Homo sapiens: one gene and its partner. The protein of the gene in region 1 interacts with the protein of each later gene in a pairwise test. Each region holds a gene or a part of one and is shown in the gene's direction. Other genes may lie near its edges. The genes, in order: ESAM and C3orf52.

Region 1 (15,824 bases):
ATACAAAAATTAGGCTGGGTGCAGTGGCTCATGCCGGTAATTGCAGCACTTTGGGATGCCAGTGCAGGCAGATCACGAGGTCAGGAGTTCAAGCCCAGCCTGGCCAACATAGTGAAACCCTGTCTCTACTAAAAATACAAAAAATTAGCCAGGGATGGTAGCGGGTGCCTGTAATCCCAGCTACTTGGGAGGCTGAGGCAAGAGAATTGCTTGAACCCAGGACACGCAGGTGCAAGACTCTGTCTCAAAAAAAAAAAAAAAAACCAAAAAATTAGCTGGGCGTGGTGGCACACACCTGTAATCCCAGCTACTCGGGAGGCTGAGGCACAAGAATTGCTTGAACCCAAAAGGCAAAGGTTGCAGTGAGCCGAGATGGTGCCACTGCACTCCAGCCTGGATAACAGAGTAAGACTCTGTCTCGAAAAAAAAATGTGAGTTATTACAAGGCAAAGCGCGGTGGCTCATGTCTGTAATCCCAGCATCCTGGGCGGCCAAGGCGGGAGGATTGCTTGAGCCCAGGAATTAAAAACCAGTCTGGGCAACATAGCTAGACTCTCATCTCCACAAAAATTTTTAAAATTCACTGGGTATAGTGGCATATGCCTGTAGTCCCAGCTACTCAGAAGGCTGAGGTGGGGGGTTACTTGAGTCTGGGAGGTCAAAGCTCCAGTGAGTCATGCATTCCAGCCTGGGTGACAGAGCAAGATCCTGTCTCCAAAAAAAAAAAAACAAACAAACAAAAAAAAAGAGTTATTACAAATGTATACCTTCAAACCTTTATTCTCCAAAAAAGTCACTGGCTTTTTCATTAAAGTGTCCTATCTCTTCCTTATAATCATTCAGGACCTTCAAGGGAGGCCCAGTTGGTATAACTAGGAATGAACTCAAATTTTATGGATTTCATGTCACCAATCTCAAACCACTTAAACTTTTCTGGTGATTGGAACTTCAAAAACCAGGAAATCTAACAGACAGTTCTCAGGAATTGTTTAAATAACTGAGTCTAGTTTTCATTGTGCTCCAGAGCTTTGAAATGCTGGTTTGAATCTTGAGCCCAAATCAGCTTCAGGCTCATATCAGCAGGGCAGGAAACTGACAGACTCTGAGGAAATATCCAGCCTGTGCTGCCTCTCCTCCAGGTTTTAGCTCTCAGGGTGAGAGATTCTGAACAAGATCTGGGTAGGCCATTTATTTTCCAGTGCAAGAGTTTATTTAAAATGGTTCTTTGCAGGGTCTGACTATAGCATTAGTGCCATGACAATGCTGAAAAAAATAACGTGATTTGGGCATGGGATTTCTTTTTCTCTGTAGGTATAGGTGGGATTAGCTGAACCTGGCTAATCCCCTAGTCTGCTCATTTATTCAACACACGTTTCTCAAGTGCCTACTATATGTCAGGCATTGGGATACTTCATTGAGCATAATAGACAAAAATCTCTGCTCTCCATCCCAACTCCTTAGCATAGTCCTCTGTAAGATCAATAAAACATTTCAAAGGAGGGCAGGGAAAGATGGTAGCTATGAAAGATAATTTTCCTTTAAAGCATCGACCTATGCAGAAATATGGTCTATGTCTTAGCCTCATAAGCACCACAATCAGACATCATAAAATTGACCAAGTGCTTTTGTCTCCTCTGAGAAGAGGAATAATTCCCTGAGAAGGTAGTGATTTCATCTAGATAGCCACTCTCATACTTGAAAGCTTTCAAGACAAACTAAAGGATAGAGGGTAAATTCAGGGCAGTCTTAGCTCCAAGAAGCAGCTGATAACAAAATATTAATTCTCTGCCATCTTGCAAAGAAAGTCAAGGAGAGCGAGAGGACAGACTGAGAATGGCCACGTGAAGCCTCGCCAGAATGTTCCCAAAGCTCCTCCCCTAGAAGGTATGAGAACGTAGCAGGAAAAGTCTCAAGGATCAAGCTCCTTCCAGAGCCCGTTTTCAAGAAGCTGTTAGCACGCACACCCCCTTTCTTGCCTGTGTATGATTGTATGTAAGTGTGGTAGTTGAGTGTTTTTATAGGTTAAACCCGTAATTGATGTGGAGGGTAGTAGTTTGTTGCCAAGTTAATATTTAACGAACCAATCTTCCAGTATCAAAGTTTTGCTGTACTTGAGAAGCAAACTTTATATAGCTTCATATATATACAAATTACATGATTTAAGCAGCCCGTGAAATAAAAATTCCAGCATTTTCTGTCTTCTTCTGTTAAGTATATGAGTCAAAATTGAAATAATTCCTATATTTTTGCTTCCCTTTATAAAGGGTTTTCTAGAACAGTCTCAATTTATTATCTTGAATGTTGCTCTCTTGAAATCTAAGCCTAATGTGAGCCTTTTCCATCTGAATTCCCAGATCTTAATTCTGTGCTAACCTGACTTCTATTAATTTTGGGATTAGTAATGAATTTCAGACAAATAGAAAATGTCATTTTAAAAAGGTCATTAGCCATAATCAGTTGTATATTTTCCCACAGCACACACAAAGCCCATTATTGGACTTTCTGAATTTCCAGGTTAGAAATTAAGCTGTTAATTATTTTAAGTGACGCCAGATACTTTTCTAAATACAGCATTTTTCACCTTATTTTGGTAGGTAGGTAGGTCTGAAGGCCATCATAGACATAATAGCCACTTTAAAATATTATGATCCATAGATTTCTGAAATCCTAGAGTCTAAGGTATTGATTCTGATTATACAGTGAGGCTGTAGAAGTCATGGAAAGCAGTTTATCATTAATTCTTAGAAACTTGCTAGGGGTGTGTTTCTTTTCATTTTAATAGGTTGATTGTCTAGACTTACACTGCCCAGTACAGTAGCTGCTAGTCACATGTGGCTATTTAAATGTAATTTTAAACTAAATATAATTAAAAATGTAATACCTCAGCCACATTTCATGTTCTAGTGGCCACCATATTGGGCAGCAGATACAGAACATTTCCATCATCACAGAAAGTTCTATCTGACACCGCTGTTCTAGATACTTAGGGAATTTGACTTTTATTTGTCTTTCCAGGAAGAGAGACATCATGCAGAATATTGTACAGATTTTGGAATCGGTACAGTTGAAATGGGAACTTTTTCAGAGCTGGACAGACTTTTCAAGGCTCCATCTTTCTAATAAACTGGCCATTTTTGGAATTGGTTATAACACCCGTTGGAAAGAGGATATCCGTTACCATTATGCTGAGATCAGCTCCCAGGTGCCCCTTGGCAAGCGACTTCGGGAGTACTTCAACTCTGAGAAGCCTGAAGGACGGATCATTATGACCCGAGTGCAGAAAATGAACTGGAAAAATGTTTACTACAAATTTTTAGAGATCACTATTAGCGAAGCTAGGTGCTTGGAGCTGCACATGGAAATTGACTGGATACCCATTGCCCACTCCAAACCAACTGGTGGGAATGTTGTTCAATATTTATTGCCTGGGGGTATTCCTAAAAGCCCAGGCCTTTATGCCATTGGCTATGAAGAATGTATTGAGAGGCCCCTCTCACCACACATGGAGCAAAGTTCCCTGGACCCAGGAAAAGAGGGCCGGGTTGACCTGGAAACCCTTTCAGCACAAGCCTCATTACAGGTGGAAATAGAACCCACCCGAATTATCTATTGCTACCTCGGGATTGCTGAGGTCAGGACTCTACAGCAGTGCTTATTTTTACATTTCCAAGCGAATACCAAAACCTTCAGCAAAGATTGGGTTGGTATTAACGGGTTTTTGTCTCAGAACTGTATTGTGGATCCCGGAGTTTCCCCCAAATCCATCTACATCAAATTTGTAGAAGTAGAGAGGGATTTTCTTTCCGCAGGCTCTTTAGTTGAGTGCCTGGAAAAAGCCATTGGATACCCCTTAAAATTTAACAACTGAATGTCATCCTTCATAAGGATTTGGGCTCTTAGCTCCTTCTTCTCTACTCACTTCCCATTACCCGGACCACCCCTCATCCAGATGCCGCCGTCAGACTCTTCATGGAAACCCTTTCTTCAATTGGGCCAGTACGACTTCTAAGGAATCATAGTAGACTTGGGCCAGAAAAAACAGACCTCACCTGAAAATGCTCATTTTGAGCAAGCAAGATATATAGCGAACTTGCATGGTGGGTCAGCTATTTCTTTTTTAAAAACAGAAAAACAATTTTTAAATGGATTTTAGAGCCCTAATATAAACAAATGTAGGTACATTCCATATTGGACAAAACTTATACTTTGAGTTTCATATGAAATTGAAAAATTGTATTTTTTTCACAATGTTTCATTTTTACACATCTCTATGTCTCTATATAAGTAATATTTACAACCCTGAATAAATAAGCAATAGATAATGGCAAGTTAAATCTTGATTCACAGTTAAAAAGACTTTTTCAATATCACCCTTAGCTACTATTGTATATAATTTAGATTTTCATTTTTTTCACCAGCCAAGTGTTTTGCTATTTCCAATCAGTATTGCTTGCAAAGACCTTTGTTTCTGTGATGTACCAACTTTACAGTTGTGTTGCCATTTAAACCTTTTTTTAAAAAAAAAAAATTAAAGTAATTCCTGGCCCCTTGGCGTACTAGTTGAGCTTTTTGTAGCAGAGTGTGGCTGCACTGGCAGTGGGGGCTGCGCTCTGACTTGACTGCTAAGAATGAAGAGAACAAACAGAGCAGGGTATCTTCACATCCTTTCATTCTCTATACCTCACTGACCAATGTCATTATTTACTGTCAGAGTACCAAAGGTCACTGAACATCTCATTTTGTAATTCTTTGAAAAATGACTAAAAATGACTAGGATAATCCTTTTGACCCTAAGTACATCAATTTGTAAGAGACTCATTCCTCATCTTTTACACTCAGTACTCAGGGGCAGCTCTCAAGGAGTACAACTGGAAAACTGATGTAATCTTGCTATCTCTCAAAAGGAAGGAAGATCCAGTAGAAATTTTTTTTTTTTTTTTTTTTTTAAGACAGGGTCTTGCTCTGTCACCCAGGCTGGAGTGCAGTAGTACAATCATAGCTCACTGCAGTCTCGAACTCCTGGGCTCAAGTAATCCTCCTGCCTCAAAGCTTCCTGAGCAGCTGAAACTACAGGCTCAAGTGCCACCACGCCAGCAATGTTTTTCACTTTTTTTTTTCTTTTTTTGGTAGAGACATGGATGGTGCTATGTTTCCACCGAGCTGGTCTCAAACTCTTGTCCTCAAGCAATCCTCCCACCTTGGCTTCCCAAAGTGCCGAGATTACAGGTGTGAGCCACTGGGGCCAGCCCAAAAGTATTCTTTTAGGAGAGGGAATTGAGAAGTATGAGTCCAGTAGGAAGGTAACTGTCATGTTTAGATCTTTCAGAGATTTCTAATGGGCCAACCACCACTCCACTTACAGGTTCGTACTCTTGGCTCAGAGTCGCTTACTAATAGAGTAGTCAAGGATCACTTTGGTCTCATGGCAGGAATTTGTTAGATTGGTTATTTATCTTTATGATTTCCCAGCATCTCAGGTGCTCTACTTTAAGTGAGCCGCAAATCCAGGTAAGAACTCTCGTTCTTCTCATTTTTCTGTACTACTGAAGATATAGTTACATATTAACAAAAAGTGTTCTTTTCCTGCAGCCTGAATGTCTCAAATCAGTGATTTTCTCATTCTGATGCCTGTTGGTTGATTGATGCTTATTTATTTTTGTAATAACTAGAGAGCTTATAATCAGTGAGATGGCTTTTATTTCTGTTATTTGAGTCTGGGGTTATGGAGTTGGGTACTAGTTCAGGGAGGATATAAATAAAATGAGAATGTTTTGAGTGTAGCACCTGTTCTCCCCAGGCAGCATCTATAGTCAGAGGCCTGAGGAAATCCTCTTGAGTTTGCTCTTCTTTGGAACTTAGAATTCTGATCCTAATGGCTGAGGCAGTCTTGACCATCTTTTAGCCATAATCCCATAGTATTCATTGCTAAATGCTGTAGGAAGAAGGATTATTACCAGGAATTCTTCATGGCATCTCTAAAACGTTGCCACTGACGAGTCCCAAAACTAACATTATGCTCCATGCATTTTTTTTCTGCATCTTCCCATTGTTATTAGTTGCTCAGCTGGAGCAGAACATTTGGGGAACATTTCGTGAGGATGTTTTAGACCTACCAAACATTACCGAGAATGGGACATTGCTAGACCCACTATGAGCAGCATGGAGAAGATAGCAAAGGCTGGATCCAATAGATGTTTTCATCATTTGCCTTGGGATGGGTGGGGGTAGAGGACAAAGATGAGCATTGGGAAATGGAGGTTTACCAAGAAAGTAGCTTGCTGATACTGGATCTCCAGTCTCTTTGGCCAGAACAGTCTAGAAAAGAAGATAGCAGGATGTCAGATAACTATGAGCACTGCCGAAAATAAGAAATGGAATATTTAGACCTTAATGAAGCCTTATAACTGATTCAAGGGGGACAGAGAAAGTATATTCAAATGTAAAGGTAAATATTAGGAATTACTTTCGGAATCTAACATGAGATGTGATTGGAAGAAACACTAATGACCTGCAAGTCTCTAACATATGAAACTATGAACTAGCTCTTGCACACGTTTATGTAAGCAGTTCCCAGGTCGCACATAGATCATCTGTGTCAGCATTCATGATTTACACCAGGGTGGAGAGCAGTCCACCCTAAAATGCATCTTGGTGAAAACTTTCACAAAGTAATGGAGCTGCTCTGCTAACTTCTACGACTTGACTGCCCTCAGGGTCAGAAGAAAGAAATAGCTGAAATAGGAGACAGGAGACAGTGAGGACAATTCTTTACGGTCAAAGAATCTTGAAGAGACTGCCCCTGTGTCACATGGAGACATTCACTGACTACAAATCATTGGTTGCAGCTTTACTTCCCATGTCACAAGTCATTTGGGATCTGAATTCTGAAGGAAAAGTTAGCTACAGGGAATGAATGTTGAGGCTACACCTTATGTAGCACTTGATCAGGATAAGCACAGCCTGTGTGATTAGATACTTGGTGTTTCTGGGTTAGAACCAAAAGACTTTGTACTTCCTCTCTTGGAAGGAGTTACTTATTTGGGGTGACTTGTCTGGAAACAAAGGAGGGGTGTTTACAAGAGATGGTTTGCAATGCAGACTAAAGCCAAGAAAAATTTGAGTGTGATGGAATAGGAAAACCAAACCAACAGCCCCCAACCCCACCACACAATCTGCTTGGCCAAGTCCAAGTTTGTAGCTCCCTACACAAGAGTGTGAGACTGGCAGGTATCTCTTCCTGTTGTCTGTGCCTCCACTGAGCTGCCAAGTACTAGATTCTAGGGTTTGCATGAGCAGTTTTGTGTTTGCATAGGCATTTCTCAAAGCCACTGCATGGCAGGTATTTGAAGAGGAGCCAGGCAGGTCACACTAGAAAGAAGCAGCTGAGAGGGCATATGGGGCACTGTATAGAAAAAGATCTTGTGTGAAGTGTGGGCCCAGGGACTACACTCTGTTAAAACAGCAAAACTATGTGCAGTAAATGGAATCCCGCAGGCCTGGCTGCTTTTCTTCCCAGACAGCTCTGCCCGCAGAGCGGGCAGCGTCAGGAATTCGTTGTTATGCTTTCTTCCCTCACTGACCTTTGCTGGGTGGTTGAGCTGTGCTGGGATGTTTGAAGCATTTTTTTTTTTTTTTTTTTTTTTTTTTTTTGGCTGTTGGACAGAAAAGCAAGAACAGGTGCGTGCCTTTCTGTAAGGGAGCGGCGGCCGCCAGAGGGCGCAGAGGTGCCTTTTGACCGAATGGCGCGGGAAGGGGGGCGTAAAATTCAATTCACAGCGACCAAGATCTAGTCTCGGGAATTAAAGGATCAGAGCGCGCCTGAGCCTTTCGCTGCGGGGATGGGAGGCACTGAAGATTTGGGGGATAAAGAAGAAACGGAGGGACTGTCCTGTCTTCCTTCCCGCAGCCGCCCCTCCTCCCCAGTCAGCATCAGGCCCGTACGCCGCTCATTTCAGGGGCTAAGCTGGGAGCAGCACGCACGTTGCCTCAGTTTCCTGCTCAGCTCCCGGGACTACCTTGTGCCAACCTTCCCTGCTCGGAGTATGAGGCACAGGCCGGGGTAATCCTCCAGCCTGGGCTGGGGTCTGCTGAACTCGCGGAGCGCTTTTTCCTGCCCGCGGGTGAAGATTCCCCGCTGGCGCGTCCCGGGGCGCCCTGGGCTCCCGCGCGACCTCTGCCGTCGCCCTCGCTGCCGCGCTCCGGTGGCCGCGCAGCCCCCGCCTCCAGGAAAGCCACAGATTCCCGCTGTGCCAGGGAGCCCGCGCGGCCGGCGCTCCGGCCTCTCCCTGCAGCTGGAAAACGCTGCTCCCCTCTTCCTCCTTCAGGAAGACCGCCCTGATTGGGCCGGGGATGCGGCACCCCCAAGTTTGGAGCCAGAGCCCAGGAGCGTTTACATGTCAGGTGTTACGGGTGGTTCTGACTTCGGATAGTCCCCAAATTTCCCACCCTTCCTGGTCACCCTTCCTATCCCACCCCGGCGGAAGGGAAGGTTACGGCTCAGGATAGTTCTGGAGCCTCCTCTTCCCCCTCTACTCGTACCTGGCTGGCTCGTGGGGCATCAGAGCTTACCTCACCCCTCCCTGCGTCCAGACCTGGAGGAGGCCGCAGGGTCCCGCCGTCCGCGCGCTGGGGGCGCCCCCGGGCGGCGGACCCCGCGCGCCCCGCCCGGGAGGACGGCGACCTCTCCGCCCCCTCGAATGCCCCGCCCCGCTGTCGCCGTCGGTCCCCACCCCGCCACCGGCACACAGGCGCGCAGACTTGGGCTGGAGCCGCCCTGGGTGTCAGCGGCTCGGCTCCCGCGCACGCTCCGGCCGTCGCGCAGCCTCGGCACCTGCAGGTCCGTGCGTCCCGCGGCTGGCGCCCCTGACTCCGTCCCGGCCAGGGAGGGCCATGATTTCCCTCCCGGGGCCCCTGGTGACCAACTTGCTGCGGTTTTTGTTCCTGGGGCTGAGTGCCCTCGGTGAGTGAAACCCGGACCTGGAGGGGACTTGGGATGCGGGATGGGGTGAGTTCGACCCTGAGGGAGAACTTTGGCCACTGCTGCGGAACTGGGTCCCACGACTCGCCCTCCTCCCCTGACCTCCTAATCCCACTCCAGGGCATCACTGGCTGGCGCTGACTTCTCGCTTTGTCGGGGACAGCCCCCAGTTTGGGTGTGGGGGCGGATGGCGGGGGGAGGTAAGGGCATCTCTCGGAAGACCTGGATACCTCTGGGGTGAGTTATCGGAACCATTCCTCACCCTGTCCACTCCCCACCCCCCACCCAGCAGAGCCGGATGAGCTGAGCCGCTAGATGAGACACTGGCTAAAGAGCTTAAGGACTTAACTCTAGCCCCCTCTCATCCCCGACCCCACATACAAGCTGATGAGGAAGATCCCCCGGGGAAATACCCCTGGTCCCCAGGCTTGACACACGCACTTCGTGTCAATTCCCCAGCGCAGATGCTCTCTCTTGCCCCCTCCTGCTTCCTGCCCTGGGAATCAAGGGAGGTGCCCCAAAAGGACGACCGTGAGGTCATTTGGGACACAGGAAATGGGGGAGGGGTTCAAACGCACAGAGAAACAGAATTGTGACCACCCCACCCCCCCAAGGCCCACCACCCTTATTGGTTTCCAGAGCCAAAGGGAAGAGGGGAAATTGGGAGGAGGGTGGCCAAGGGTCAGAGAGGAAGGGAACCTCCTTGGAGCAAGTGTTTGGGAAGTGTTGTAGGCCTCCAGGGGCGCTGGCTTCAGCTGAAGCTGGGGTGGCTCAGAACTCCATCTGGGAGAGGACCCGGCAGGACTAGGCCCTTTTAAACTATTTCACTTGCTGTCCCTCAGCTTTCTTGCCATCTCCCTTCAAGGATCTCGAATGGGAGTGAAGGGTGGGTTTAGCTATATTGACTTTAACTCATTTCTCAGGTTGGAGGATGTCAGGACAAGTAAGGCCTGGGAAGCTGTAGAGTGAAATTCTACAATGATGGGGACAGAGATGAGGATCACCAGTGTCCCCTTTAGCATGTTCTGTGCCCCACAGGTGTCGGGGCATGCAATATTATAGTCCTTGGACAAAATGAGTCTCAAGTACAGCCCCCCAGGCCACACCAAGGCCACAAGTAGCCTTCTGTCCCTCTGGGCTTGGTGGGCCTGCTCCAGGATCCCTCAGACTTCTCATCCCGCCTTTCCCAACTTCAACTTCAGCTCTGTTCCTTCTGCATTCCACCCCAACTCTATCCCCCTTCCTTGTGGGGGGTGGGGGCTGGGGGAATCTCTGAAGCCAGGGAGGACAGTTCAAGTTGACTGCCTGAGTGTCCCAGGCTTCACCTGCTGCTCATCTGCAACCCTTTGTCCTACCCCAGCTTTGAGCCTCAGTTTGTCAGACTGAAGACCTGGACTCAAAAGTTCCAATCGGTCCCCCTGGGGGGTTGCCCAGTTCCCGCCAGCCACTCGAGGGTTAAATGGCACTGGTGACCCCGGTGCAACGTGCAGGCGCCCGGCTCCGCTCTTCTGGGCTCTGGAGGAGGCTCTCCGGCTCAGTAGGCTCCTCGGCGGCTCAGTGCTGCTGCCCCTGGGGCGTGAGAAGCCCGCGGGGGGAGTTTCTCAGAGAAAGAGGGAGACTAAAAATAGCCCCGGGGAGCGGGCCCATTTCGCTCTCCTTCGGCCCCTGCCGGCTCCCTCACTCTGGCCTCGGAGAGGGCTGTGGGCCGGAAGGGTCCCTTTCTTGGGCTGTCCCAGTGTCCTTCGATCAGACCCAACCAGACTCCTTTTCTCTCCCAGTGGCTCCGTGGACCCTGGGACCGAAAAAAACGGACCAGTTGGTGACTTCCGAGCCAGCAGACACCCAGGAGGGAGAGCAGAAAAGCCTCAGGCCCTCTTCTGTTCCTAGTTTCTGACAGGGCGAAGGGCAAGGAGCATGTGCCCAGACCCCAGTGTGTCCGTTACTATCTCTTTTAACTCTCCTCTACCTTCTGGAAAGTGGAATTATAAATGTGGGACCTGGGGAGGTCGCTGGTGGTCCACAAGGTGAAGGAAGGGCGCGCCCCTTCTGGGCCCCAGGCAGTTTCCCGGCGGAAACCCTTTCTGGCCGCCGGGTGTGTGTCGTAGAAAGGCTGGGGGAGAGCCGGCAGCACCTGCAGGCTCCAGGCGTGCCCGGCCTCAGCGGAATGGCCAGCGGGCCGGGTCCCCAGGGGGCGTCCAGCTCCTTGAGGCGGGGATTGTTTCCTCCCGTAGAGCCTCCGGTCTAGTGGCCCCCCCTTCATTGTCTTCTGCCTTATCACTGGGTACAAATTTCCTGCCCAGACCACAGAGATCCTCCAGGAAATGGGAAGGGGGATGCTGCGAAGGCCAAGTAACAGAGGTGGGGGTTCTGTACGGCGCAGCCGGGAAGCGGTGGGGGAGGCTTGCATCCTGGCCGGATCGGCTCCCAGCCCTTAGAGGCCTTCAGCCTGGCTCTCCTAGGGCGAGGGTGGAGAGCGGGGCCTGGCTGCGGCCTCTTCCCGCGGCGTTGGCCGCCTGCTCGCCACGCGGAGGTGGCGTCTTCCGCTCCGAGGCAGAGGGCCGAGGCCTGGAGGGAGTAGGGCCCGGGACTGGAGCGGCGATCATCCTCAGGCCTGGCCGTGTGCAAGCCCAAGGTTATTCCCCAAAGGGCTTACCAGTTGGCTGCTCTGTTGCCTCCCCGAAGGGCAAAGGATGAGTATTTCTGGACGCCGTGGTGCAAACGATGGCCCCCTCCTTGAAACCAACACCCCGGTCCACCCCCTGAGCGCCGGACACACTCAGGGGAGGCTTCATACTTGTCTAGAGACCGTCGTTCGCGCTGCCCTTAATTCCTTGCCACCCGAGAGTTCTCTGCCCAGATCGCCCGAACCCCAGAAGGGCTCCGAGGAGCTTTCTGGGTTTCAACCCTCCGTTTTCCGAGGGAAGCCCGCCTCTGAGATTGCGCGGGAGGGCGGGGAGCATCGCATTCACTGGGTCAGGCTTGGGCGCTGGGCTGCTCTGCTCTCTCCAGCTCCTGGCAAGCTCAGAAGGAGCCGCAGGGTTAATAGGTAACCAGACGGCCTCCCAAACCCCTCCGCCCTTTGAGAACTCGGGAGTGAGGGACCCTGGCGGCCCGGAGCAGCATCCCTACTCTCCCTCAGGAAAACTAGGGAAGCAAGTGGGCTACGTGGCGCGTACGACAGAAACAGTCGGTCCACCCTTTCTTCTCATATCTTCCCCTCCTCGCTGGAAATCTGCCCCCTCTCTTTGATGCTCAGAAATCTGCGCCTCTGGATACGAATAAATGCATATAAATGTGTCCCCATCCCCGCTACAACTGCAGAGGCTGGCGGTGGAGAGAAGTCGTGATGAAATGGGAAGCAGGACACTGAGCCAGTGGTCCCTGGGCACCCCTTGAGGCCTCCAGGGGCCGGACCCCGCAAGGTTCCTCTTTCCAGTTAAAGCGACTTTCCTCGCTCTCTGGTGAAGCCGCGTAGGGCAGGGTCCGCGGGCGGAGCTGGGAGCCGGTCCTGGGCACTCACGCCTCGCTCTTGTCTCCAGCGCCCCCCTCGCGGGCCCAGCTGCAACTGCACTTGCCCGCCAACCGGTTGCAGGCGGTGGAGGGAGGGGAAGTGGTGCTTCCAGCGTGGTACACCTTGCACGGGGAGGTGTCTTCATCCCAGCCATGGGAGGTGCCCTTTGTGATGTGGTTCTTCAAACAGAAAGAAAAGGAGGATCAGGTGAGGGAAGAACGCCTGTCAGCCAGCGGCAAGTTGCGCCCAGAGGGGGTTGTAAGCAAAGAGCTGGTAGCGGTGGGAGGGGTGGAGAGGGAATGGGGGCCGGGGAAGGAGTTTCAGGGAAAAGCAGAAGTCTTCACCAGTTCAGTTTTTGTTCTGATATTGGAGACTTCCCAAACAATTATCTTTTGCCGGCTTTCCCTAAAAATCCAGCACACAAAATACTGTAAAAGTGTGAGAGGCATTTTACTTGGTTATGAGGGAGGAGAGGAGGAGGGGAAGAATGGAAGTTGAGGACTGGGAAACGCTTAGGGGAAGTAACACACACGACTTATAAAAGTTAGCATATTTCTGGCCTGACTCAGTGACTCATACCTGTAATCCCAGCACTTTGGGAGGCCGAGGTGGGCACATCACTTGAGGCCAAGAGTTCGAGAGCAGCCTGGCCAATATGGTGAAACCCCCGTCTCTGCTAAAAACACAAAAATTAGTCGGACATGGTGGCACCCGCCTGTAATCCCAGCTACTTGGGAGGCTGAGGCAAGAGAATTGCTTGAATCCACAAGGTGGAGGTTGCAGTGAGCCAAAATCCAGCCACTGCACTTCAGCCTGGGCGACGGAGTAAGACTCTGTCTCAAAAAAAAAAAAAAAAAAAAAAGTTAGCATATTTCTGTTTTCACATTCTCTGCTTTGAATACTGTCAAGTCACAGGCCACTTCTCTTCCCAAATGATTCTCATCTGTCACCTTGCCCCCCTGTATACCACCTTGAGAGCCAAGGGGCCATCTCCTCCCACAATCTCCCACCCATCTGTTTTGACACCGGGCTTACATCCAAATACAGATTTACCCCAGAAGAGAATGAAACAATGTTCAGAACCCCTGAAAACTGTGTTCAAGGAAGTCAGCTGGATTTTTTTGAGACAGGGGTCTTACTCTTGTTGCCCAGGCTGGAATGCAATGGTGCAGTCTTCGCTCACTACAGCCTCTACCGCTCCTGCTCAAGTAATCCTTCCACCTCAGCCCCCTGAGTAGCTGGGACTACAAGCACACGCCACCATGCCAGGCTAATTTTTGTATTTTTTGTAGAGACTGTGTTTCACCGTATTGCCCAGGCTGGTCTTGAACTCTTGGACTCAAGCAATCCACCTGCCTCAGCCTCCCAAAGTGCTCACAGGCATGAGGCAACGTGCCCAGCCTCATTTGATACTTTTAAAATACATTTTTAATATTTTTTTCCTCCAAGATGCCTTCCCCATTGTGTAAGTTTCAGGTCTTACAAACCTGGATCCACCCCAGCAGTCTGAGTTGCATATATACATACCTCCTATTTACATGTCCCTCCTCCCACTATTATGTCACCTTTCTAAACACCGCAATTGGGAGATGAGACAATGCGCAGGAACGAAGAACTGTTCTGGTGAAGAGGACCCAGGGGCAGTGAGAGGGGGCTAGGGACAAAAGGTGAATGGGGAGCTGGTTCAGGTTAGAAGAATGGGTGCATGTGAGGGGCATTTGGAGAATGCGAGCTGGGGGAGGGAGAGTGGCTGAGCCTGTAGGCACAGTAGACACATGTAGTAATGACGGGGATGTGTTATGCCCCACACCAGGTGTTGTCCTACATCAATGGGGTCACAACAAGCAAACCTGGAGTATCCTTGGTCTACTCCATGCCCTCCCGGAACCTGTCCCTGCGGCTGGAGGGTCTCCAGGAGAAAGACTCTGGCCCCTACAGCTGCTCCGTGAATGTGCAAGACAAACAAGGCAAATCTAGGGGCCACAGCATCAAAACCTTAGAACTCAATGTACTGGGTGAGTGAGAAGCAGATTTCCGGACCCCTCCCCACCTGCACTGGGAGGTCTGGTGAGTCTCTCTCCTAAATGACAAAAGTTGGAGGAGGAACAAATGAAGCGACAGAAGGGTGCAGGGCAGAGGGAGAGGATCTGTGGGTCTCCTGGGTGTGGTTTTAATCTGTCTCCCCCTGCCCAGTTCCTCCAGCTCCTCCATCCTGCCGTCTCCAGGGTGTGCCCCATGTGGGGGCAAACGTGACCCTGAGCTGCCAGTCTCCAAGGAGTAAGCCCGCTGTCCAATACCAGTGGGATCGGCAGCTTCCATCCTTCCAGACTTTCTTTGCACCAGCATTAGGTGAGGACACTACTGGAAACAGTGGACACTGTGGCTGGGGAAGGGGAAAGATGAGAGGTACCACAGGGACTGGGGTGAAAAGGGGAGCCAAGGCTGACAAGCACTGGGGAGGAGGAGGAGGATGTGGGGAGGATGTGGGGCAGAGAAAGATGCCCTGCCAGGGGCAGGTATTGTGTTAGGTGCATTCACATGTGTATACTGTTATGAAACAGGCTCTACAGCTGGAGTGTCTGTGTTCAAATTCCAGCTCTTCTAGTGACTAGCTGTGTGACTCGGTGCCTTCTTTCCTGAATTTGTAAAATGCGGATTTTACACATATCAGCTTGAACTCATTAGTGTGACTTGAACACACCAGTTATAAAAAAAAATTTTAGGGATAACTGAAACATTTTTAATATGAAGTATTCGATGATTTTAGATAGTTACGTTATTAATTTCCTAGGCGTGGCAATGCTATTGTGGTCATATGGAACGACGTACTGCTTTTTTGGAGATTTATGCTGATGTATTTACTTTAAAATATCTAAGTAAAAGAAAGAAATCAAATAAATATGGCAAAAAGTTAGCAACTGTTGGATCTAGGTTGTGGGAATATGGATTTTCATTTTGCCTCTTTCTACTTTTCACATGACCATTTTTATAATAGTAGCTTTTTCTTTTTAAAAATACTACTTATTACCTCACAGGTTTGTTGGGAAATTGTGGTAAGTTCATACACATCAAGAATCTAGAGCAGTCTTTGGCACAGAGTTAGCAGCCAATAAACATTCACTGTTTTATTTATTTATTTATTTATTTTTATTTTATTATTATTATACTTTAAGTTTTAGGGTACATGTGCACAATGTGCAGGTTAGTTACATATGTATACATGTGCCATGCTGGTGTGCTGTACCCATTAACTCTTCATTTAGCATTAGCTATATCTCCTAATGCTATCCCTCCCCCCTAAACATTCACTGTTATAATGATTAGTCCATATAGTCC
Region 2 (15,127 bases), on another chromosome or scaffold:
CTGCTTTTTTAATGGAGAGGTTTTTGCATTTGCTGAGCAGAAATAAGATGAGTCAGCATCCACATGTGTCACCTGTTGCATAGTAGACTGTCTATTTCAAAGGTAAATGAATGTTCATTTTTCATTTTACAACCATATATCTTGCACAGAGTCAGATATGAGGAAATTCTGCGGGTATTTTGAGCTCATCACTAGGTAGTGGCAAAAGAACAGGGACTGACATTGATGCCTGTGGTGGGTCCACAGATTTCTTTGAGCCAGTTTCTTCGCTGATAAATGGAAACCAGTGCACTTTCTCTGTGTATCTCAGGTGCAAATGAGATTACATAAAAATAACTTGAAAAACATTTTAAAAGAATTATCTTATTTACAAATGATCAAAGTAAGGCATAGTGAGGTGACAGATTCCTGCCCTTCATTCGTCAACCAAATATGCTCAGGAACAAAAATTAGCACCTAAAGGTATTGCTGTCTTATTGTCAGGTCAATAACTCCTTTCTTCCATTAGGTCAAGTTTCAGAAGTTTCTGGATATAAAAGGTAAATGGAAGTGGGTATTTGTGGGGGAAAAATTATTTTTTTCTCTATACCCACATTCAATGCAGAACACTTCTTTGGCCGTGTGTGTGTGTGTGTGTGTGTGTGTGTGTGTTTTCCACACCAACCAATTATCTGCCACCAGCTGGGTGTCTTGCAATCCAGTTCAATTCTGACATGATCTGCCTGGAGTTAGTGCAGACCCCATAGTTTAAGGGTTCAGCCCCACAAAACTTCCCTCATTTAAGATGCCAGTTACGGGAGGCTGAGGCAGGCGAATGGTGTGAACCCGGCAGGCAGAGCTTGCAGTGAGCCGAGACCGTGCCACTGCACTCCAGCCTGGGCAACAGAGCGAGACTTAGTCTCCAAAAAAAAAAAAAAAAAAAGATGCCAGTTCAGTTACAAGTCTAGGTTGTCACTTGTGCTTCTGACCAACCAGCTGCAAATTGGAGGTCTCCAAAACCCCCACCTTGGGTTTGGTCATTTGCTAGAATGGCTCACAGAGCTCAGGGAAGCATCACATTTATGGGCACACTGTAGAAAATAGAGGATATCAAAAGCCAGATAAAAAGGTACATAGGGCGGACACGTGGGACAGAATGTGGGCATCCATGTCCTTTCAGGTGTGCCACTCTCCCTTGTAAATGTGTTCAGCCACCTGGGAGCTCTCCAGACTCTGTCTTTTAGGGATTTTTATGGAGATTTCCTCACATAGGCATGGTGGATTATTAGCTTGCTTTCCAGCCTCTCTCCCCTCTGGAGGATGGGGGTGGAGGTGGGGCCAAAAGCTTCAGATTTCTTCTTCTTCTTTTTTTTTTCTCCAGACAGTTTTCACTATATTGCCTAGGCTGATATCAAGCTCCTGGCCTCAAGCGATTCTCCCTGCTCAGTCTCCCGAGTAGCTGGGACTACACGCATGCACCATCCCACTCCACCACACTGGCTGAAAGTTCCAAGCTTCTAGCTGCGGCTTGGTCTTTCTGATGATCAGCCCCCATCCAGCAGCCCGCCAAGAGTTGCCTCATCAGAAATAAAGACACTCCTATAACCCAGGAAACTGCAAGAGATTTAGGAGCAGGTCTGTGTCAGGAGCTGGAGTAAAGACCAAATGTTAGAGTAAAAGATGTACCCGGCGCCCCTGTCACTCAGGAAGTAACAAGGGTTTTAGGAATTCTGTGCCAGGAACTGGGGCAGAGACTAAACAGTATACATATTGTTATTATATCACAGTATTGGAACTTTATGCCCTTTCCCTTGACTTTTCTAAACACAGGCCCTGCCATGTGTCACTGCCACAGTGTTTTCCTCTCAGGGTTGGGGCCATTACTCTGCTTAAGCCAGCCTGTGTGACTACCACACCCTGTGCATGGGTTAGGAGTTAATGATGGCACCTGCCTTATTCTGGAAGCTGGTCTCTAATTAGCCACTGCATCAGACTCAGCTAATCAATTCGCTGAGCTCCTTGCTCAGTTTGCACCAAGCCTCATAGACATTGTGTGGGAGACACAAGACTAAGGGTTGAGGAACCACCCTATTTCACTTCTTTGGGCCCAAAGTGGACAGTGTGACTAACAGCTCCCCAAATGTAAATATGTCCTAAGTACAGCAGAGGAGCATGATCAAAAAGAATCTTCGAGTGAACACTAAAAATGATTTAGTCGACCACTCCATATGTTACCTTAAAATTTTAACTTAAAAATTTGCTGAAAGCCTGTTATGTGCAAAACACTGTGCTGGGCCCTAAAGATTAATAAAGGAAAGAAGGGAAGGAGGAAGCAGAGAAGACTGGAAGGAAGGATAAATATCACCTTTGCCATAGGAAGCTCAATCCAAAAGGAAGAGAAAGACATGAGTGCTTGACATTAGTGCTTGAAAAGATTCTCCTCTGCAGCATCCTCATCCTCCTCTCCATCACAGCATCCCCGTGAAAGCTGCTTTCCTAGTTCCCGAGTTTTCTAAATGACTGTCAGCCTATCGGCAACATCCTGTGCATTGGGGCTTAAGAGCTGTACAATGACTCAGTCATTTTCTCCGAAAGTTTTTGTCACTTTAAGCTTCTTTCCTCCTTGATATTCAGGAGACACTTTCCTTCACTGTATATATATCAATTTCTTCTTCACTGGGTAGTGTGGTCAGATGGGAAGAAGCTGGTTTTTAGTGTTCATAACATGTAGGATTGAATTTTGGCTTCTCCTTTTACTAGCACAGTGACCTGGGACAGGTTTTCTTCATCTCATGGAATGGAGTGCTGTTTAATTTTCCAGTAAAAAGGGGAGATATATTAATGCCTGTTTTGCCAGGTTTTTATAAAGATCACAACAGTAGTGACAAGATTAGAAGAGCAGAAATAGCAGGCACTCTCATCTTTTGTTCTCTTTGAGATATGGGTTGTACATGTTGAGTTAAATGGGAGTGTATTGTGGAAGTGCAGCGTCCTTGACATTCCATTTGGAGTTGAGGGGAAACAGGGTAAGCTCCCCATAGGGCACTGCTGTTTTTTGTATGTTCGACTGCTTGTTATTGAATAAAGTAATAGGTCATTAAGCCATAATGGCTGTAGCTGGGGATGGCACATGTTCCTAGTACTACTAGTTTAGGATTCAGATATCTGAAACACAACTACTCAATGCCTGGGAAAAGATACTTGTAACATAATATCAACAACTAGTATCCAGAATATAAAACTAACCACTTCAGATAGATAAGAAAAAGACAGATAAGCCAAGAGAAGGAAAGGAAATGAGTGAGAAATTCAGAGATGAAAAGTCCCAAAGAGTTAATAAACATGAAAAGATGTTCAACCTCACTAGTAAGCGAGGCAGTACAAATTAAAACAATGTGAAGCACTATTTTATACTCCTCGGAGTGGTAAAAATTTAAGTTTGGTAACACTAAGTGCTGGTAAGGATGTGGGAAATGGATATTTATACATTGCTGGGAGGGGTGGGAAAGGGAGAACAATTTTGTGAAGTTGGAGATGCACCTACCCTTAAACCCAACAATTCCTTTTCTTGGCATATGCCCATTGGAAACTCCCGCATGTCCAAGAAGAGATGCATGGAGACATTAAGGATGATTGCTTCAGCATAAGTTGTGATGGGGAAAATTGAGAATAGTGCATGTGATCATCATCAGAGGAATGGATAGGCTGGTATACTCATTTAAAGGAATCTGTGCAGGAGTTAGGTGAATGCCTTTCATTGAGATTTACTTTATGGGTAAATCTTAAATGTAATTTTGAGTGAAAAAAGGCAAGTTTTAGAAGATTATGTAGAATATGGTGCCTTTTATTTGAATAAAAACACAAATTATATTTTGTTATGATTACATAAATAAGTAGTAATTTGTAAAAATATGCAAGGAAAGGATGCATGCCAGCTTCAGAATGATGGTTAGTATTAAGAAAGAGAGAGAGGAGGAACTGAATAGTATGTAGGAGTCACTTTAGCTTTATTTTGTTTCTTAAATTAAAGGGCTGAACCCAATATAGCAAATATGAAGACATGAAAGCTAGGTAGTGGAAACACAGGTGTCATTATTTTTTATGATGCTTGCAATATTTCATGCATAAAATAAAGCCTCCATATTTTTGCAGTTCCCCTCTTTGTCTCTTTGTCCAGGGGATGTGCTAGACCCATGGCTTAGCATGGCTGTTTGTCTTTACACTGAAGCTCTGGAGAAGGGAGAAAGAAGCCCTGGGCTAAGCAATGTCCCAGGTGCTAAGTGGTCTGTGCTGCTGCTGTCCAGCAGCCATTTTGGGGTCTTCTCTTCTCTCCTTCCTATGGTCTGTGAGGCCTGTGTGGGCTCCAGCTGCTGATATTCTCACCACTAAGGCCACAGGGTGCCAGTGCAACTTCTGAGAGAAACTGAGTCATTTGGTCCTTATAAATGGAGTTCTTTTGAAGTAGCATTAACTTGAGTTTTGATTTATGGTGGGCTCAATTCTTGATCCAGAGCTTCCAGATAACGTTGATTCCAGGCTGGAGTGGAATCTCCTCTGCCTTAGAAGCAGTTTTGCTTTGTCAGGTGATGTGTAATATGATCTGTCGGTAATGTGTGTGGTTTAATTTGCTTCTGTTTGTTTAGCTCACAGATGTGTACAGTACATCGCCCTCTCTGGGTCGTTATTTTACTTCAGTTGAAATAGTGGACTTCAGGTAAGAGTGTGGAACATTACATTTTGCTCTCTTTCTCTGGAAAGAGATCCCCCCACCCCACCCTTCGTCATTTACCTAGCAGGGATTCCCAGAGCCTCAGAGCATGAAGGGAACCTGTAATAGAATCACAGAATGTCAGTGCTGGGAAGGTCTTTTACACCAACAGGCTCAACTCCCTTATTTTACAAATGAGAAAAAGGAAGCCCAGATTAATGGTATAATTCAACCAGGGTCACACAGAAGAGGGGAAAAGCCAGTCCCAGGTAAACCATTTCTGTTTAACAATGAATGCTCAAATAAGCTAAGGGTAGAAGTAGAAATAGATCTCAGGTCGTGCTGTGATGCGAGTGATACATGTATAGGCATTTGCTTTTGAGGAGCACAAGTAATACAGGAGTACATTCTCCTTGTTTAGTATTAAAGATGTAAAGAGGGGCCGGGCGTGGTAGCTCACGCCTGTAATCCCAGCACTTTGCGAGGCCAAGGCGGGCAGATCACTTGAGGTCAGGAGTTCAAGACTAGCCTGGCCAACGTGGTGAAACCCTGTCTCAACTAAAAATACAAAAATTAGCCAGGTGTGTTGGTGGGTGCCTCTAATCCCAGCTACTCAGGAGGCTGAGGCAGGAGAATCTCTTGAATTCGGGAGGGGAGGTTGCAGTGAGCCGAGATTGCGCCACTGCACTCCAGCCTGAGTGACAGAGTGAGACTCTGTCAAAAAAATAAAAATAAATAAAAATAAAAAAAAGAAGACATAAAGAGGTATGCACAGGAAAAGTCTCCCTTCTGCCTCCTTTCTTCTCCACTGCCACCACCAATAACTAATGCCATTCCCTTCCATGGAGGTAATAGCTGTCAAGAGTTGAGTGTAATTACTTCTGTTCATGTATCTACCATAGGCACCACAAATACTACACACACATAGGATATACACACCCATATGTATTTTTTATTTTTTAAATTTCCTCCTCATCTTTAATGTTCTTGAGATGTAGGCATCAGGGTGTATGTGTGTAGAGTCCATTTATTATCCTTTTACATCATTGGGACTATTGGAGATGACTTAAAATTTATATCAAAGCTTCATTATCCATTATGCCTGAGATGTCTCTGGAATATGACCATCAAAAGTTGTATTATATTGAGATTCCCCCTTCAAACTATAAGTTCTCCAAACCCTAATATTAGCAGACCTGGGAGGGGAGGCACATAAAGCAGGTGGTAGGTAGCACCATGGTGTGGGGCCAAACAGACCTGAAGTCTACAGATACATATGGTGCAGGCTGCCTTTGATCTCCTTCTTTAAAGACCCCCAATGGGCTGGGCATGGTGGCTTACACCTGTAATCCCAGTACTTTGGGAGGCTGAGGTAGGCAGATCATGAGGTCAGGAGATTGAGACCATCCTGGCCAACATGGTGAAACCCCATGTCTACTAAAAATACAAAAATTAGCTGGACGTGGTGGCGCGTGCCTGTAAACCCAGCTACTTGGGAGGCTGAAGCGGGAGAATTGTGTGAACCAGGGAGTCGCAGGTTGCAGTGAGCTGAGATCGCACCATTGCACTCCAGCCTGTGACACAGAGAGACTCAAACAAGACAAAACAAAACAGACCCAGTGTACATGGTACTTACGGTGACATCTCTGCACTTTATTTCAAGAAGTCCAGGCAGAGGTCCTAAAGTATTGAATTGAGGAAGAAAAGCCATTGCTTCCCAAAGGGTGCTGCTGCACATGGGTGGGAGGCGGCTAAATCCCTGGCACATGCATTTGTGTCTACAGGGGCATTGTGACCTCAGCCCTGGACTGGCCCAGCTAGAACCTGGAAAAATGCCCTTTGGTTTATTAGCTGCTAGACTCACTCCAGTGGTGGGCAGCTGGGCGAAAGGCCCTGAAAGTTGCTCTTTTCTCAAAATTCAGCCTCATGTAAATTTACCCTGTGACCTGCCATGGGGGATTAGGATGGGCTGGCCAGGCCAGGCTAGGTGGCCTGATTTTCCCATTCAGCTTCTGACCTGGTCTTCTGAAAGTCAGACTCTGGCCCTCTTCATTAGCCAGCCCAAGTCCTTGCCCCTGGGAATGCAGGGTGGCTGGCTGTGTAGGTGTTGATCATCATTAGCGATAATTAGAGGGCAGAGCTCAGGGAACAAGTTATGACACCTGCAAACTAGGTTAGCTGGATTGCAGTTTGAAAGTGCATTTTTTGGCCCTCCTTTAGTGGCATCCTTGAAACTATGAGTTTCTTCAGAGTCCTGACTCTCCATTATTCATTTGATCTGCAGGATCTGGCACATCTCCCAGCCGTAGTAGAGTTTATAAGCTCAATTGTCAGCCACCTTGTAAGATCGAAGAGTATCGGCCTATGTGACCTGTAGCCAGAAGAGGGAGCTCTTTGCCTATCCTTAGCAGGGGCAGTGGCCTGATTCACACTAATGGGACTGGTGCATCTGCAAAACTTCCCCAAGGTGATAGTCTCAGATGTGGCCTCCTGCTCATTATTTTATTGCTGGTTCTTAATCTGGCCCATCTTAAACCAAAGTAATAGGATAACTATGAATAAACTAAATGTTGAAGTAGCATTTAAAGAGTAGCATTAGACACTAATTAATGGAGGGTAGCCCTTGATTATTTTTATTTTGGAAATGGGAAAAAATGTTCTAGGAAGATGAAAATTCCCTTTCCTTAGGTCCCATTACTGAGAGTTACAGGGCTTGGTTATCTTGCCCTAGGGGCCTCTGGAAATGGGACAGAAAAGTTTCTCACTTTGGGGACAAACCAGGGAAGCCTGATTTGTTGCTGATACACAGGGTGGTCTCTGTCAACGTTCAGAAGTTCTGGACCCAGCCAATGGTAGGAAACTTTGGCTGTGCCTTAAACATTTTCATAGGTCAAATAAAGAATTGGTTAAACTAAATATCCCTGGCACACCTTTGTGGGGGCAATGCTGAGAACATGAAGAAGGAATGTGTGTGGAGAAAAGGGGAGGCTTCCCTGGCTTGCCTTAAGGGATGAAGGCTGGGGTTGGGACAGATGGTGGGTCAAGCCTGGGATCTTCTCAGCATCTTGACTGGAGATGGGCACCTCTACCTCTACCTCTGATGGCCTCTCCCAGTGGATTCCTAGAGGATAGGTACTAGGTGGAAGGAGGAGGTTAGGATCACCTCAACTTTTTGTGATGAATCTATGGAAGAGGATTCTTATAGGACAGTATGTTCTTCCAGGACAGAACATTCTTTGCTATTTTGTACTGGAAGAACATGCAAAACTAAAAAAAAAAAAAGTTATTGCTTAAATTCATTTCTTGAGTTGCAGTATGATGCTGTTTATGTTTTAATGTCTTCCATTGCCTTTCAGTGGTGAAAATGCCACAGTAACGTATGACCTGCAATTTGGGGTTCCATCAGATGATGAAAATTTTATGAAGTATATGATGAGTGAGGAGTTGGTGCTGGGCATTTTGCTACAGGATTTCCGTGATCAGAATATACCTGGTTGTGAGAGTCTGGGGCTTGATCCAACATCCCTCTTGCTCTATGGTAAGTAGAGCAAGTAAAGAAGTCAGAGTTGTGACAATAAACAGGTGAACCAGATTGGGGTCAAATTGGCTTGGTTCGATTTGGCAACTGTGGTGACTTGGTACTGTGTCAGACTATTCATTTATTCACTCATCCCCTCAGCAGATGGTGTTGCTGTGAGGTGATGTTCCCCTCTCTGTGGAGGCTACACAGTCCGTGCCCTCCATAATTAGACAGTGTAGTTGGGGAGCAATTATGGAAAAGATAATTCAACTATAAAGATGAACATTGCTACATGTTTCCTCATGCAGTTCACCCACATTCTAAGCCCTGTATCCTACTTTACAACATGATTAGCAACCTTTATGGAGATACTGTGGTTTCACAAGAGAAGTAAGAATTGAAGAATTGGAAATAAATGATACAGCTAAATTGCTGAAAGAGTATCTCAATATGGGGAACCTATTTCTTTTTCTGTTGAAGGCCACTGAGACCATTAAGAAATTAATAGAGGGGTATACAAAGACAAGTTTATTCCTTTCCTTAGAAAATTATGACAAATTTACTTGTCAACTTTTAAAATTAAGAACAGAACAAGGAAATAGATATGTTCTTTAATAAATGTAACAAACACCCCATTTATCAGAATCTGAGAACTTTTGACACTCAGAACAAAACCTGACAGAAAGGAAGGTCAGAAGGCCAAATGGCTTCAAGCCCTCAAAATATCCTTCCATTGCTTTGTAGTGAAGCTCTGGCCTTTGCTGCTGATCTCACTTTCTGATACCTCGCTCGGAGGCTTGTTTGCTCTTATTTAGCCCCTAATGCCAACAATCTTGAATATTTTATGTTCTCATCCACAGTCCATCAGAATCACTTTCTCCACATGAGTAGGTTCTCAGTAAATACTAGTTGAATGAATGAAAGGCAAATTAGAAGTAGTTGTGGTTGGCAGCAGGTGCATTAACGGTCTAGAATCAGAAGCATGGAACAGGGGGTTAAAAGCACAAGTGTTAGTGCATAGTACAAGACAAGGTGTTTATTATGATGATGACACTGTTTCTTGAGGATGAGAGGCAAGAGTAATGTTGGCCTAAGAAGGCAGAACGTTATGTAAAACAGTTCTTAAGAATGCCATTCAGAAGGCCAAATTTTAGCTCACTGGAAGTCTCATAAATGGAGATCTTCCTCACAGAGCATCCTGAATAAAGTGTGTCTGTGGGTCAGGCAGACACTATATGTGTGTGGAGTGAAGAGATTGTGCCCCAGTTACAGGAATTAAAAAAAAAAAAAAAAAAGCCAGGCGCGGTGGCTCACGCTTGTAATCCCAGCACTTTGGGAGGCCGAGGCAGTTGGATCACCTGAGGTCAGGAGTTCGAGACAAGCCTGGCCAACATGGTGAAACCCCATCTCTACTAAAAATACAAAAATTAGCCGGGCATGGTGGCAGGTGCTTATAATCCCAGCTACTCGGGAGACTGAGGCAGGAGAATCACTTGAACCTGGGAGGCAGAGGTTGCGGTGAGCCGAGATCGCATCATTGCACTCCAGCCTGGGTGACAAGAGTGAAACTCCATTTCAAAAGAAAAAAAAACCCAGAAACCTTCAGCCTCCTCCCATGTGAAGAGGCCTGCGATGCCTGTGGGGGCTGCTGCTGTGGTGTGGTTGGTCTTGATTTTCTTAGGCCCCTTGCAAAAATTGTTACTGGCTCTTTCCAAATGGAGGCCAGGGAGATGGGCAGAGGTCTGAGGAAAGGTTTAAGAGGCTTCCAAGGCTGAGAGGTTCAAATAGTACAGGATAAAGGGCAGGCTGCTTGTGAGACCTGAGGAGGGCTCCCAGAAGACCCTGAGCTTGGCCAAAGAGACTCAGCTGTTTCCCCAGGGCTTGGTGCTCCAGCAGGTGCTGGGAAGGCAGCTGTGAGTGGAACAAAGTCTCTGCTCTTCTGGAAATTGCATTCTTTCTCTCAGACATTTCTTCTGACGGGACATGCTGAGAAAATGTGGGGTTTTCTGTGACCCCATGTCCCACTTTCCAGAGCATGAATGTGCAATATTTGAGCCATTTTATGTTTTCAGAATGTGAGTGTCACTGCCCTCTCAAAGGGAAGGGTGCACAGAGAAGCAGTTGGGAAGTGAGGAAAGAAGAAGAGGGACTCATCGCAGGCATGCAGGCAGATGGGGGATGAGCTCAGAGGCAAACTCTAGAGAAAGGGAAAATGTGTCAGGGAGAGGCCCAGGGCCCTGGGAGGGACCAAGAGGGATGGAATGAGTTCTTACGCCAGTTTCTACGTGCTCATGAGCTGTGGGCTTGGGGGATTACCATCCCCGCCCTGTGATTACCCAGGCAACTAGTTTCCCACAATGGTAATGTTCTTAGTCTTCAAAGAGCAAAGATTCTTAAAATTGTTTGGTTTGTGTGCTCCTTAGAGAATTTGAAGACAGCTGTGTACCTTCTCCCCAGGAAAAAAAAATGTACCTACTTCTCCCCACAACACAAAATTGTACAGACAATTTCAGGGATTCCGAGTATTTCCCTGAGGCCAGCCTATGGTCCATTTGGGGTTTGTATATGTGCGCTTTAGAAGCAGAATCCAAAATTAGATTGTAATTTAGATTCCTGAGGGGTTTTGTGTGTGTTTGCTTCTCATTCTCTAATTTGGAAATACGGCGATTATTTTGACCTGACTGCATGCATATTTGGATGCCTTATAAAAATAAAAACTTAAAATATAATGATAAAGGAATTTTTTAAGTCCATCATCCCTCACCCTTCCCTATCTTTGGTCTTCTTCACCTCCTAGATGAGTGGGGCCCTGGGCTAGGAGGGGGAAGTCTGTTTTACAAAGGTCGAAGAATAGGTCAGCATCATGAGTTATTTTGGACACAGAGGAGGTACTTGGTACTGTTCTCACATGGGAAGGAGTCAGCTAGTAGACTGAGTAGGGAAAAAGGGCAAAACCAGGATTTTTGTGAGAGAGAAGAGGAAAAAGCCCCAGGTAGGGAGAATAGTGAATCTTGTCAGTCCTGTCAGTGGTGGCGAGGCTGGACTCCTGGTCTGTAGACCCCGGCGGGCTCCCCCTGTGTTGTGTCTGCTTGGGGCTTTGCATCTGCACCTGCTGTGCCCTAGGGTTCACACCATTTCTCTCATCAGAATTTCTCACAGTATATTTTACACGTTTTAAAAACGGAAATTTTAGAGTTTATGGTTAGATTATGAAAAGGGACTGGATGTTAAAATGTCCTTAGCACCCAAAAACCACATCATCAAAATTATTTCTCATGCATCCTACCCAAACAAATAAGCAAGAAACAATAAATGTCATTTGCCTTTTGAAATGTATTCAGAGCGGTGTGTGTGTGTTGGACTGAAGACTAAATTTCCTCTGTTAGGAATGTATAAACCTTGCAATTTTATCTAAGATTTTACACTAAAATTCAATGAAATGAAATGAAAACGTAAGCATTTAATAGTGGTTTTAAAAATCAGTAACTTTTGTTCATCTGTGTTTTCTTTTTAGAATGAAGTGATGGAGGCTGGTCTCTGTCTGAAAGCAGTGCTCTACCAAGTCCTGGAGATGAAGGGAATTCACTCTGTTTTGCAGAAAAGATTCTGTGGATTAATACAGAAGCACCAGCAACACCAGAGGGGTGGAGACTCCTTTCTCTCCCGATTCTACAGTCTGGCTCTAAGCCCAGTAAAACAGCTCCCGAGCACTGCTTCAGCTGGGTCCAGTCTTGACAAAGGCAGGAAGCCAGCTAGGGTGGGGGCGATAGGGTCAGCGGGTATGTCCCACTGTTGGAGGTCACTGGTATTCTGTTTGTTTTTGTTTTGTTTCGTTTTGTTTTTTGAGACAGGGTCTCGTTCTGTCGCTTAGCTGGAGTGCGGTGGCGTGATCATGGCACTGCTATTCTTGAAGCACTCCACCCACCTGGGCTACTTTTTCTTTAGTGCAGAGGTGCACTGTCTTCTTTTAGGTGGGATCGCGTAAGCATGAGCTGGTAGAGCACGGAGAGGCAGGCAGCCAGGTTACGAAGACTAAGCCAATTATTCACTGAAGTCATCCTCCTCCCCCCCACCATTCGATTTGATCTACCTCTAAGCCAGGCTGTGAAGAAAAGGAAGGCACTTTAGAAGACCTCAGCAGTGTGGTTCTGTGTCTACTTCCATGACCTGTACCTGAGTATCTTAGCCAGCCAGCCTTAGGAACACCACCAAGGTTACTTTGAAATCTATGTATATAGCTAGTTACAGACGGGAGCTATGTGTTTCTTCATTATTTTGCAGCTCCTCGTTGTTCCTGTGATTCCTGAACACCTTTTTGGAAATATGGGTCTCTGTGAGTTTTGAGCACACTACTATCACTTTGGATAGTCACTCCATTTATATTTTTATAAACTTCCATTAGAGAATCATTAAGGCTGTTTAATATCTGCTCTGGATATTACGCATTGGCTTTTTGTTGCCTAGTGCTACAAACCTTCCTGTGGGACTCAGTGTCTTCAGGCAATGATTGTGTATCCTGTTACAGATGGTTGTGATACAAGAAGAACCACTCTTCTTTGAAAATAAACTCTTGGAAGCTTTTGCCAGCTATTTGGGGGGTAGGAGGAATATTAGCAACTGTATTGGTTGTCTACAGATACAGAATTGCCTGTTGTGAGGGAACTGATTGTTTTGTTGGGAAAAGAAATTTACCAGGAGAAAGAGTTTTGTGCTGTATTGTGAGAGATCTCGCCTCTCAGTTAAATGAGCCCTGGGTTAAAGTCAGTGTGAAGGGCAGCTGTGTGCGGGCACGAGCCAGAGTGTCTGCCTCAGACTAGATTTGACTTGAGTTCTTTATGACCCAGGACTCTGGATAATGTGAATTTGCTTTCCTATTTAACTAGAAGATACATGTACTATAGATCATTGTCTCATTTTAGTGATTGTTCCTTAAACTAGTGAAACTAGTGGATTTCTCTTCTTCCTCTTTATTTTCTGCATGTTAAATGTGAACCTTAGTGTATTTGTATTTTGTAGAAAATAATGAAAAATTTTAATGGAGAATGATTTAAAAACATTTACAATACATTATTTTTGCATCTGTGTTGTTGCATTCCCATTGGCTGAGCTTTGGGCTGGGTTTTTGTTTGTTTGTTTTTTGCAGTAAATGGTGTTGAGCATAATTTTTTTCATTTCCCTTAGGGCAGCTTCCTCTTCTGGGTGAATAAGATCAAGCCAAGTTTGGCTGGGGCGGCCTGGGTTCTCCCCTCTGTTCCAGCAAGAGCAGGCAGAGGCCATCCCCTCCTCTTTCTCTGAGGCCCTCTCTGGCAGGACTTGGTATCTGAAAGGGCTTGGACTTGAAGGAACAGCCTGTTCATGTCTGGAGGCAGGATTTGGTTTTGTTCTTCCCTTCTTGTTCAGAAAGCACCAAGATGCAAGTACCTTGTCTTGGGTTTTGACCATTTGCAAGTCATAGAGAGGACTTTCCATAGATTTGACTTTTCTGCCCAAATGGTATGGGAAAAAACTAACCTTTGTGACTAACATATTTGGTGGTGTTTGAAAAAAAACGGCCCTTACAAATGCACTGTTCTGCTATAGGAGATAAATCTACTGGTCATCACACAACATCATGATGAGCATAATGCCTGGTACATAGTGAGGTTTTAATAATTGAAGGATTTGAGAAGAAAACTGCTCTTCTCTGGATGTCACTTAGATATGGATAGAATGGCAACAGCCATATCAGCAGAACCTGCTCCTGTTCCTCTGCCAACAAAAATTCCAGCCATGTGTCTGATTCTTTTTTGCCTTTCAATTTAATTTAGTTCTACAGATTTGAAAAAATGATGTGTTTTATGGAAGGCTATGGGGATACTAGTGGAGAAGACAACAATAAGAAAAGAAGCTGTTAGTCTTATTAAGGAGTCAGGATCAGTACAGATGAAACAGGAAACAGCAGAAAAAAATACCCAGGGGTCAAAAACAAAGGCAGTCTGGGCGCGGTGGCTCAAGCCTGTAATCCCAGCACTTTGGGAGGCCGAGGCAGGCAGATCACCTGAGGTTAGGAGCTCGAGACCAGCCTGACAAACATGGTGAAACCCCATCTCTACTAAAAATTAGCCAGGCGTGGTGGCAGGCGCCTGTAATCCCAGCTACTCAGGAGGCTGAGGCAAGAGAATCGCTTGAACCTAGGAGGCAGAGGTTGCAGTGAGCTGAGATCACGCCATTGCACTCCAGCCTGGGTGACAAGAGTGAAACTCCATAACAAACAAACAAACAAACAAACAAACAGAAACAGTAGGGTTGCGGGTGGTCAGAGAAAAGAGTGGTCAGTATAATCAGAGGACGTTTTTTTGTAGGAAGTAGGACTGAAGCCGAATCCTGAAGCACTGGTGGGATTTGAATAAGAAGATTTGCCTTCCTTTACACATGTTCGTGTCTTCTTAGGATGAGGTACATATTCTCTCTTTTGTCTTTTACATGTGAATTCTGGACATGAATCCTGTCCTATTCAGAGTCTGATCAATGCTAAGAAAAAATGGGAGAAATCTCTCAATGTCCTCCTTCTCCTCTCCCATCACTCTTTCATTGCTTTAAAATAAGTTAATTTACACTGCATTGTGAATTAACAATTGCTGCATTGTTGGCAGCTTTATCCACAGACATCCTTGAATCTTTCCTTTGTGACTAGAGATTACAGACTCAGCTTCAAAAGGCACCTCCCTCATCTCACAGTTGGGAAATCAAATTCTGGAGAGCTGGGAGGACCAGCCCAGAGTTCCACAGCTTGTTGAGGGCAAAGCCTAGCCCACAGGGCAACCACATACTATGAATGGCCACCAGCTCAGGTAGGATCCCCAGAGGCAGGCTCAGTTCAGGCTTAGCTGACATCTGGGAATCCCTAAGGAGCACAAGTGATCAGGGGTCAGGGGTGAATG

The links.
Region 2: the proteins of ESAM (region 1) and C3orf52 interact in binary tests that used the Homo sapiens proteins (3 or more experiments, as listed by UniProt).

The regions. Positions count from the first base shown.
Region 1 is NC_000011.10:124,755,220-124,771,043, reverse strand, and holds the start of ESAM (endothelial cell-selective adhesion molecule precursor), read left to right. Parts: upstream 1-8,753; 5' UTR 8,754-8,889; coding exon 8,890-8,959; intron 8,960-11,630; exon of another isoform or gene 11,631-11,910; intron 11,911-12,516; coding exon 12,517-12,695; intron 12,696-14,301; coding exon 14,302-14,503; intron 14,504-14,681; coding exon 14,682-14,837; intron 14,838-15,824. Other genes in the region: MSANTD2 (myb/SANT-like DNA-binding domain-containing protein 2), read left to right, coding at 3,016-3,868.
Region 2 is NC_000003.12:112,104,921-112,120,047, forward strand, and holds the end of C3orf52 (TPA-induced transmembrane protein), read left to right. Parts: intron 1-4,622; coding exon 4,623-4,693; intron 4,694-7,880; exon of another isoform or gene 7,881-7,978; intron 7,979-8,043; coding exon 8,044-8,225; intron 8,226-11,721; coding exon 11,722-11,726; coding exon of another isoform or gene 11,727-12,078; 3' UTR 12,079-13,290; downstream 13,291-15,127. UniProt on the Homo sapiens protein: Has a role in LIPH-mediated synthesis of 2-acyl lysophosphatidic acid (LPA). LPA is a bioactive lipid mediator involved in different biological processes, and necessary to promote hair formation and growth.